Linked DNA regions of Homo sapiens: region 2 is linked to region 1. A link means that fine-mapping ties the variant in region 1 to the expression of a gene that starts in the linked region. Tissue or cell type: nucleus accumbens. Region 1 holds a variant in brackets; the other region holds the start of a gene. All regions are shown on one strand. Distances are from middle to middle.

What was found. PIP is the estimated chance that this variant, and not a neighbour inherited with it, causes the effect.
Region 2: TMEM238 starts here. The variant in region 1 is fine-mapped to the expression of TMEM238 in nucleus accumbens (GTEx, PIP above 0.99).

Annotation. Positions count from the first base shown.
Region 1 is chr19:55,203,210-55,208,353 of GRCh38, reverse strand. PTPRH (protein tyrosine phosphatase receptor type H) reads left to right here. Exons shown (of 20, transcript NM_002842.5): 2 at 1,155-1,188; 3 at 1,399-1,665; 4 at 2,762-3,028; 5 at 4,306-4,572. Among named protein-coding and RNA genes, the nearest start is that of PTPRH, 3.7 kb to the left of the region's middle. The variant G/A (reference allele first, on the strand shown) is at 2,301.
Region 2 is chr19:55,381,681-55,386,824 of GRCh38, reverse strand. TMEM238 (transmembrane protein 238) reads left to right here and starts at 2,533. Exons shown (of 2, transcript NM_001190764.2): 1 at 2,533-3,103. The coding sequence starts at 2,566. The coding sequence ends at 3,096. RPL28 (ribosomal protein L28) reads right to left here and starts at 893. Exons shown (of 5, transcript NM_000991.5): 1 at 860-893; 2 at 387-475; 3 at 132-255. The coding sequence starts at 467. RefSeq lists enhancers at 1,848-1,917, 1,948-2,017, 1,971-2,933 and silencers at 2,308-2,647, 2,938-3,027.

The DNA of each region.
Region 1 (5,144 bases):
GAGACCCCCAGCCCCTCCTCCCTCAGACCCAGGAGTCCAGACCCCCAGCCCCTCCTCCCTCAGACCCAGGAATCCAGACCCCCAGCCCCTCCTCCCTCAGACCCAGGAGTCCAGACCCCAGCCCCTCCTCCCTCAGACTCAGGAGTCCAGGCCCCCAACCTCTCCTCCCTCAAACCAGAGGTCGAGACCCCCAGCCCCTCCTCCCTCAGACCCAGGCCCCCAGGCCCCCAGGCCCTCCTCCCTCAGACCCAGGAGTCCAGACCCCAGCCCCTCCTCCCTCAGACTCAGGAGTCCAGGCCCCCAACCTCTCCTCCCTCAAACCAGAGGTCGAGACCCCCAGCCCCTCCTCCCTCAGACCCAGGAGTCCAGACCCCCAGCCCCTCCTCCCTCAGACCCAGGAATCCAGACCCCCAGCCCCTACTCCCTCAGACCCAGGAGTCCAGACCCCAGCCCCTCCTCCCTCAGACTCAGGAGTCCAGGCCCCCAACCTCTCCTCCCTCAAACCAGAGGTCGAGACCCCCAGCCCCTCCTCCCTCAGACCCAGGAATCCAGACCCCCAGCCCCTCCTCCCTCAGACTCAGGAGTCCAGGCCCCCAACCTCTCCTCCCTCAAACCAGAGGTCGAGACCCCCAGCCCCTCCTCCCTCAGACCCAGGAGTCCAGACCCCAGCCCCTCCTCCCTCAGACTCAGGAGTCCAGGCCCCCAACCTCTCCTCCCTCAAACCAGAGGTCGAGACCCCCAGCCCCTCCTCCCTCAGACCCAGGCCCCCAGGCCCCCAGGCCCTCCACCCTCAGGCCAAGGTTCCTGATCCCCAACCTTGGTTTTTTTCTCCCTTCCCAGTCTGTTCATTGCTCTCTGCCCTCGGTTTTCCAAGGACATATATTTCAGGAAATGAAATCATTAATTTTATCTCTCAGCCTTATCGGGTGGAGCCAACCCCAGCTCCCTAAGCTCTGCTCCTGCCATGCTCCCCCTTCTCTCCTCGACCCAGGAAAGACGGTCGAGGTCGTGACAGCCCAGCCTAACACCGGCCCCTCCTTCCCATGCAAGGGTGACTCATGGGGCGGGGACCAGCCGCTCCTCCCAGCCCCTCGGCCTCACTGGGCGGAGGAGTGGTTGAGAGGCTGACTCCGTTTTCTCTGGGTTCCCTCCAGGGCCTGTGCAGCTGGACAGGGGCCAGGGCGCCTGGTGAGTGACCCCTGCCTGAACTCACTGCCCACTCGAAGAGGTGGGACCGCAACTGCCGTGAGCCTCTGGGGGGTCCCCGTGGGGTCCAGTGGTCCATGGTAGGGGTTTATGAGCGCCGTTGTTTCTGGACTTGGGGCGTGAGCTCAGGGGTTGGGAGGGATTGTACTGACCTGGTTCCCTTTTTGTCAGACCTTCCTTCCCAATTCTCAGCCCCCAACCCAGGGAGGAACCTGACAGTGGAGACTCAGACCACCAGCTCCATCTCCCTGAGCTGGGAGGTCCCCGATGGCCTAGACTCACAGAACTCCAACTACTGGGTTCAGTGTACTGGAGACGGCGGCACAACAGAGACTCGAAACACAACAGCCACCAACGTCACCGTGGATGGCCTTGGACCCGGGTCATTGTATACGTGTTCTGTGTGGGTGGAGAAAGACGGAGTAAATAGCTCTGTGGGGACTGTCACTACTGCCACAGGTAAGAGGCAGCCACTGCTTTATTTTTATTTCTTTTATAAGGACAGTGGTAGGGGGTGGTTGAGAGCTGACAAAATGCGACAGGTTCTTTAGTTGGATAGAAACACAGTGGAAGCCACACGTGAGAATTTCAATTTTCTATCAGCCACATAAAAATAAGTAAAAAGAAACTGGTCAGCCTGTCTCTACAAAAAAATTAAAAAGTAGCTGTGGTGGCGTGTTCCCGTGGTCCCATCTACTCGGGAGGCTGAGGTGAGAGGATCGCTTGAGCCCGGGAGGCAGAGGTTGCAGTGAGCTCTGATTGGACCGCTGCACTCCAGCCTGGGCAACAGAGAGAAACCCTGTCTCAAAAAAAAAAAAAGAAAAGAAAACAAAAGAAAACAAAAGAAAAGAAAAACAAACTAAATTACTATGAGAGATTTTATGTAGTCCATCAGATACAATTTTTTTTTTTTTTGAGGCAGAGTCTTGCTCTGTCGCCCAGGTTGGAGTGCAGTGGCATGATCTTGGTTCACTGCAACCTTTGCCTCCTGGGTTCAAGTGATTCTCCTGCCTCAGCCTCCCGAGTAGCAGAGACTACAGGCATGTGCCACCATGCCCAACTAACTTTTGTATTTTTAGTAGAGACTGGGTTTC[G/A]CCATGTTGGCCAGGCTGGTCTCGAACTCCTGACCTCAGGTGATCCGCCTGCCTCGGCCTCCCAAAGTGCGGGGATTACAGGTGTGAGCCACTGCACCTGGCAGATACAAGGTATTTTCATTTTGACTTGTAATCAATATAAAAACGATCATTCAATATATACACCAAGTATATACTCACACACACACAAATATATATAAAGGATCAATGAGACAGTTGACATTCTTAATTTCATACGAACTCTTCGAAAGCCGGTGTGGATCTTCCACTAACGGCTCATCTCATTTCACAAAAGCCACCTCACGGTGCTCAACACTCACGTGGAACTCGTGGCTGCCACACTGGACAGTGCAGAGCTGGGCCTCCCTGCCTCTACCTGCTGGATGCAACGGTTAAGGAAGGGCTGGAAAGTTTGAGGGCCAGAAACTACAACTGATTTTCCCTCCTGTGCTGGTTTTCAGCTCCCAACCCAGTGAGGAACCTGAGAGTGGAGGCTCAGACCAACAGCTCCATCGCCCTGACCTGGGAGGTCCCCGACGGCCCAGACCCACAGAACTCCACCTACGGGGTTGAGTACACTGGAGATGGTGGCAGAGCAGGGACTCGAAGCACAGCACACACTAACATCACCGTGGATGGACTTGAACCCGGGTGTTTGTATGCGTTTTCCATGTGGGTGGGAAAGAATGGAATCAACAGCTCCCGGGAGACTCGAAATGCCACCACAGGTGAGAGGCAGTCGCCATTTGTTTTGCTCTTACTTGTTTAAGGGGCAGTAGGCAGGAGAACGTAGCGGATTTCTATTCCATAGTCCCTCTGGGCCACATTGAGCCAGGTACTCATGTCCACATCCTGGGGCAGTCTCAGCTCAGGAGATGAAGAAGGAATGAATGTCCATGGTACCTCCAGCTGCTAAGCTGGGGCCGGTCTGTGTCTAGGACTCTCTAGAATGTACCTTCCTGCACCAAGAGGAATGTGTAGGGGCCAAGGCATGTTACCTGAGCTTTCAAGGAATTAGATACTGTGAGTGGGGACACTCTGACCCTCTGACTCTTCTTCTAGTCCCCAGCTGCGTCACATATTGAGGATGGAAACTCAGATCATCAGCTCCATGATCCTGATGTGGAGAGCTCCCTCTGGCTAGATCTCCATTGTCCGATATGGTAGCCACCAGCCACACATGGCTATTAAATTTAAGCTCGTTAAAGTTGCATGAAACTGCAAATTCAGTTTCACATTTCATATGTTTGAAAGCCCTGTTGAAGGGCTTCCATTTCCTTCTCTGTTCTCCTACCATACTGGAAGGTGGGAGAGCATTTCCATCGTTGCAGAAGCTCAGTTGGAAAGCGCTGGCTCAGGTCTTTGTTACTCAAAGTGTGGTCCATGTGTGGGCAGCATCCGGGTCTCTGAGAGCTGATGGAAATACATTGGCAAGTGACACTGGTGGGGGAGAAAAAGGGTGGGGGGGAGTGCAGTCTCTCAGCTCCATCCTAGCCCTGCTGAGTGAGAACCTGCATTTCACAAGGTCCCCTGTGAGATGTGCACACAGCAAAGAATGAGAAGCCCTGGTCTAGACCATAAACTCTGCATCTACTGGCACCAGCTGTTGAGGGACAACTAGGAACTCTGATGATCAAAAATGCCCACTTGGCCAGGCATGTTGCCTCACGCCTGTAGTCCCAGCACTTTGGGAGGCCGAGGTGGGAGGATCACCTGAGGTCAGGAGTTCGAGACCAGCCTGGCCAGCATGGTGAAAAAATATAAAAATAAGCCGGGTGTGGTGGTGCAGACCTGTAGTCCCACCTACTCGGGAGGCTGAGGCAGGAGAATCGCTTGAACCCGGACGGCGGAGGCTGTGGTGAGCCGAGATCGTGCCACTGCACTCCAGCCTGGATGACAGACAGAGACTCTGTCTCGAAAAAACAAACAAACAAAAAGCTCACTGGCTGCCCCCGTTATGTTCTGTAGTCCTGCTCATATTAGATCTTTCTTCCTAATTTCTCAGCTCACAACCCAGTGAGGAACCTGAGAGTGGAGGCTCAGACCACCAGCTCCATCTCCCTGAGCTGGGAGGTCCCCGATGGCACAGACCCACAGAACTCGACCTACTGCGTTCAGTGCACTGGAGATGGTGGCAGAACAGAGACTCGAAACACAACAGACACCAGAGTCACCGTGGATGGCCTTGGACCCGGGTCATTGTATACGTGTTCTGTGTGGGTGGAGAAAGACGGAGTAAATAGCTCTGTGGAGATTGTCACTAGTGCCACAGGTAAGAGGCAGCCGCTGTTTTATTTTTATTTCTTTTATAAGGACAGTGGTAGGGGGTGGTTGGGAGCTGACAAAATGTGACAGGTTCTTTAGTCCAATAGAAACACAGTGGAAGCCACAGGTGAGAATTTCAATTTTCTATCAGCCACATAAAAATAAGTACAAAGAAACTGGTCAGCCTGTCTCTACAAAAAAAATAAAAAAGTAGCTGTGGTGGCGTGTTCCCGTGGTCCCACCTACTCGGGAGGCTGAGGTGAGAGGATCGCTTGAGCCCGGGAGGCAGAGGTTGCAGTGAGCTCTGATTGGACTGCTGCACTCCAGCCTGGGCAACAGAGAGAAACCCTGTCTCAAAAAAGAAAGAAGGAAGGAAGGAAGGAAGGAAGGAAAGAAAGAAACTAAATTACTATGAGATATTTTATGTAGCCCATCAGATACAATTTTTTTTTTTTTTTTTTTGAGACAGAGTCTCCCTCTGTCGCCCAGGCTGGAGTGCAGTGGCGCAATCTTGGCTCACTGCAAGCTCTGCCTCCCGGGTTCAGGCCATCCTCCTGCCTCAGCCTCCCGAGTAGCTGG
Region 2 (5,144 bases), 180 kb before region 1:
AGACCAACACCCTGGCGCCAGGGATGCCCGCCGCGATGGCAGTTACCGCTCTTCCTGCCTGACAGTAAAAAATCACAGCTCCCAGACCCGGGAAAGGGGCCGCTCTCTGGCCCAAACCAGACAAAACTCACCGGATCTCCGCTTAATGACCACCACGACACCTTTGCCGTCGGCTGCCGGCTCCACGCCCACAGTCTTGCGGTGAATCAGTCCGTTGTAGCGGAAGGAATTGCGGGCCTTCAAGTTATTGGGCTCCTGGGAAGGAGGCGGCACAAGGCATCGTGAATAAGGGACCCGGAGACATGCGAAGGTCCCGCCCTCTGACCCAGAGTCAAGAGACTCAGGACCCTCCTCCCGCAGGAGCCACGCATCCGGGCCCCACTTACAGTGCTGTAGGTCTGCTTATTCCTCTTGATCAGGAAACTGGAGCAGTTCCGCACGACCATCCATTGCAGATGCGCAGACATGGCGGCGGCTGCGGGGAAACGGGCACAGGGAAAGCGTCAGACACAGAGAACTAAAGCAGCGTTAGGCCACGGGCCACGCTCGGACAGCAGAGGAAGAGAGCGACTGGGAACTTGGGTGAATGGGAGACCCCTGAGGGCAGACAGCGACCTAGAACTCTTGTCAGGCGGGACTGAGTGACCTAAGGCGGCGGGACCGAATTCAGGCAGCCGAGACTAGCTGCGGCGAATGAGAGTGAGGGGAAAATAACTTGAAAATTCACAACGACTTCACGGGGAGGGGTTGGGGTCCGCCAATGACCCTTGAGGCGCAAGGGGAGAAGGCAGGCAGAGGACTGAGAGGGAGTGCGCGGCGGGCCGGAGATGGCGACCACGCGAGGAAGACGAACGCTCACCTCCCTTCGCAGCGGCGACCTGAGACGGAAAGAGGAAGGCGAGGGGCGAGGCGACGCCTTTAATACCGTACACGCATTTCCGCTTCCTCTCCGGGCGGGCACGACAGGAGTTGTCGGTCCCCACCTCCGAGGCGGCTCGATGATGTTCGGCTGCTTCCGCCGAAAATTCGCTCAACGCTCGGGAATATTCGGAACTCTTCGGTTAGAGGGCCGAGAGCGTATTCCGGGAACCGTTCGGAAGTTTTCGAAACTCTACCGCTGGATTTCCGAGTGGCTCCAATTCGAGAGGTCCTGGGACCCATACCTCAGCGTTATCTCTCCAGTATTGCTCACCCAGCACTTGTCACTGTGATTGGCATATGATGGGCGCTCAACAAACATTTGTTTTATGAATGAACTGGTGAATGCGTGAACTATATAAGCCTAGCCCCGGCACCTTTGGATATTTCCGGTCTTCGTAAGCCCTCGCGGTGATGGCCAATGAGGGCGCCGAGGCCCGCTCGGGTATTTTCGGAACCCTCCGGAAACGCTCTTGGGAGAGGTGTGTATGTTCGGAAATACTCCGTCTTCATTCGGAATCCCTCGGCTAATCCTGGCAGCCCTCTTGCAGTTCGCCCTCCCCAGGGTTTTCTTGAAATAAAACTCTTAAACTGTTTAAGCCTGGGGAGAACCTACACGGAAACTTCTCGCTGACTGCCACCCCAGGGGAGCGCGGATGCCCTCTAAGGGAGAATTGTTTGGAGGGAGGGAGATTTGCATGTGGCTTCTCTTGGCTCCCTTTAGGATTCTATAGATTTGCCGGTCCTCTTCCCTGCCCTCCACCTGTGCCTCCAGCCTATGGTGTGCCTGTCACACCCCATCAGCTCCCTGGGAGGTTATGATCCGTTGTCAGGGCCACCCTAAGGGGGCAGGAGCCTTGCCTGATATTTCTCTGTGTCCTCGGCCTCACCCACGCGGCATGGTGCTGGGGAGGCCTCAGAGACTCCTACTGAACAAAAGGAATGAGGGTGCCTGTGTCACCTCCCCAGGGCTCCTTAACTTGCGGTTACACCCGGGCACTCCTTGGGGCAGGGGCTTCGTCTGGTCCATAGGACTATCCTCCATAGGACAGTCGGGGTTCGCCCAGCTTCCTCCACGGGTGCGCTCTGGACCTGATGGGTCTCGTCCGTCCTTGTGCCCGTGGCTTCATTCGCTGAACACAGGAGACCCCAGAAGACACGCGCTGAGTGAAGGAAACTCAGCTTCCGCGGAACCCGGAGCTTCCCCTCTTAGATCACCCCGACTACTGGTTCTCGCGTCCCAGAGCTCCTTGGTGTCTAAAGGCCTTGTCTGATCTGCACTGTCTGATCTGCACAGGCTTCGGGAGGCGGACACTGAGCAGAAACAACGCCACGCCCGGCTCCGAGTGTCCCATGCTGCCACCACTAAAATGCCCTGATTTTTGGCCATATGTGACCTCCCTGGGTGGCACGGGCCCTAGGCACCCGTGGCTGTGCGCCTGGCTACCACCAGCTCAGGCCTCTGAGCAATAGCCCCTGCACGGAAACCACGACCAGGGTAACCCCGGCCGCGCCGGTTCGCGCCCAGCCCGGTTCAGGTGACCAGGCGGGAGCTTGGCACACCTGGCGCCGTCCCCTGACCCCGCCCCGGACCGGGCCGCACCCCGGAACGCTCTCTCTGGGCGCCAGCGGCGGCGGTGCAGGGCCATGGCGGCGGCGCCAGCGGTGTGCGCCTCGCAGGGGAGCCCGCCGGGTGCACCGTCCGCGCCGGCGGCCGCGCCAGCACCCGCGGCCGGCCTGGGCCGCTGCCGGATGGCGCTGCTGCTGGCCGTGGCGCTGGATGTGGCGGGCATGGCGGCGCTGCTGACCGGCGTGTTCGCGCAGCTGCAGGTGCGCGGCCGCGACTTCGGGGACCTGCTCATCTACTCGGGCGCGCTGCTGGTGTTCCTGAGCCTGCTGGGCTGGATCCTCTGGTACACCGGCAACATCGAGATCTCGCGCCAGGAGCTGGAGCGCGACTACGGCCTGCGGCCCTCGGCGCTCGCCCGCCTGGCGCGCAAGCTCTCCCGCCGCTGGTCGGCGCCCGCCGCCGCGGGCCAGCGCCCCGCGCCCGGCTCCCGGAGAGCGCGCCGAGCCGCCCGCGCGCCCCCGCCGCCCGCCGCCGGCTCCCGCCGCGTGCGCCTGCAGCTCGCCACGCTCGAGGCCGGGCCCGGGGCGGCGGGCGCGGGCAGCGAGTGAGGCCCAGGTGAGGGGCGGGCGGGGCAGGGCGGGGAGACGGAGGGACCGAGGGAGGGACGGGAATGGAGACAGACGGGGGAGCGATGGACAGATGGAGACAGAGAGCGGCCATGGGGAGGTAGAGTCCCAGGGCGGGGTGGAGACAGGGACGGGAAGGCTCTGGCGGAGAACCGCAGACACAGCAAGCACAGGTGCATACGTGGGGGAGGCTGTGAGACCCTGCCCCTGGAGATGGGAAGTGTGGGGGTCGAGTCACACAGTTAGGCCCCCCGCACGGGGAGAGCCCCAGCTTCCAGGTACACCAGGCCCCATTTTTTGTTTTGTTTTGTTTTGTTGTCGTTTGGGGTTGTTTTGAGACAGGATCTCTCACTGTCACCCAGGCTGGAGTGCAGTGGCGTGATCTCAGCTCACAGCAGCCTCGACCTCCTAGGCTCAAGCAGTCCTCCCACCTGAGCCTCCCAAGTAGCTGAGAATACATGTGCGCCCCACCTTGCCGGGCTAATTTTTGTATATTTAGTAGAGACGGGGTTTTGCCATGTGGGCCAGGTTGGTCCCCACCTCCTGAGCTCATGCGATTTGCTCTCCTCAGCCTCCCAAAGTGCTGGGATTACAGGCGTGAGCCACTGAGCCCAGACCAGGCCCCATTTAATCCTCTCCATGTAACTGGTCTCCAAGGTCACTACTATTACCATCCCCATTCTGCAGTGGAGGAAACTGAAGCGCAGAAAGGCGCCACATTTGCCCAAGGCCACACAACACGTAGGTGGAGGAGCTGGGATTCTCCTGACCTGTAGGCCTAGGAAAAGAGGAGCTGGGATTCTCCTGACCTGTAGGCCTAGGAAAGGAGGAGCTGGGATTTTCCTGACCTGTAGGCCTAGAAAAGGAGGAGTAAGAAGGACCAACAGCAGGAGAAATGAAGCCACCACACATTCACTCCCCTTTCCCCTCTACCTTCTATCTCTTTCCTAAACACACCTTTCCAGCTAGCCTGCCTCTGCTCAAAGACCTGCTGTGGCTCCCTCTTCACCTTTGGTTAAACTGAAGCACTCACTGGCCTGTGGACCCCCCATATTTTGGCCCCATTTCTCCTGCCTCTCTGCACTAATGGTGTCTCTTAGTCCACAGATAGCCAGTTGGTCCCTGTTCCTGCTCTTCTCTACACCAGGAGTGCCCTTGGCTGTCTCCACTCCACCCAGAAAACTTCTCACATGTTTAAGATTTAACTTAATTTCTCTGGGTCTTCTCTGGGTCTTCATATTGTCTGAGCGACCCCTCTTGCTGCTTATATGGCCATGTGCTGTGTCTATGTTGTTACTGTCTCTCCCACCTGACAGGGAGTGCCTTGAGGGTAAGACCTAGGTCCCTAGCGTCCTTGTTCCTAGCATTGCCCAGCAAAAAGTGTGAAATCAGGAAAGGTTGATGGTTGGGTAGGGAAGTGGAAGGATGGATGGAAGAACGGATGGCTGGATGGGTGGATGGGTAGATGGATGGGTGGATGGATGGATGAGTTGGTTGATGGATGCATGGGTGAATGGATGATAGATTGATAGATGGGTGGGTGGGTGGATGGGTAGATCGATGGGTGCGTGGATGGATGAGTTGTTTGATGGATGGATGGGTGAATGCATAGATGGGTGGGTGGTTGGATAGGTGGATGGGTAGATGGATGGGTGGATGGACGGGTGAATGGACAGATGGGTGGGTGGGTGGATGGGTGAATACATGGGTTGGTTGATGCAGGGATGTGGTTGGATTGACGGATGGATGGGTTGTTTAATGGGTAGATATGGGTAGGTGGTGAATTGGGCAATGAACCATGAATGGATATGGTTGGAGAGGGAGCCCTGCCTGATAAAGGGGCAAGAGCTTTTCCTGATACTTCTCTGTGTCCTCGGCCTCACCCATGCAGCATGGTACTGGGGAGGCCTCAGAGACTCCTACTGAACAAAAGAAATGAGGGTGCCTGTGTCACCTCCCCAGGGCACCTTAACTTGCGGTTACACCTGGGAACTCCTTGGGGCAGGGGCCTCGGCTGGTCCATAGGACTA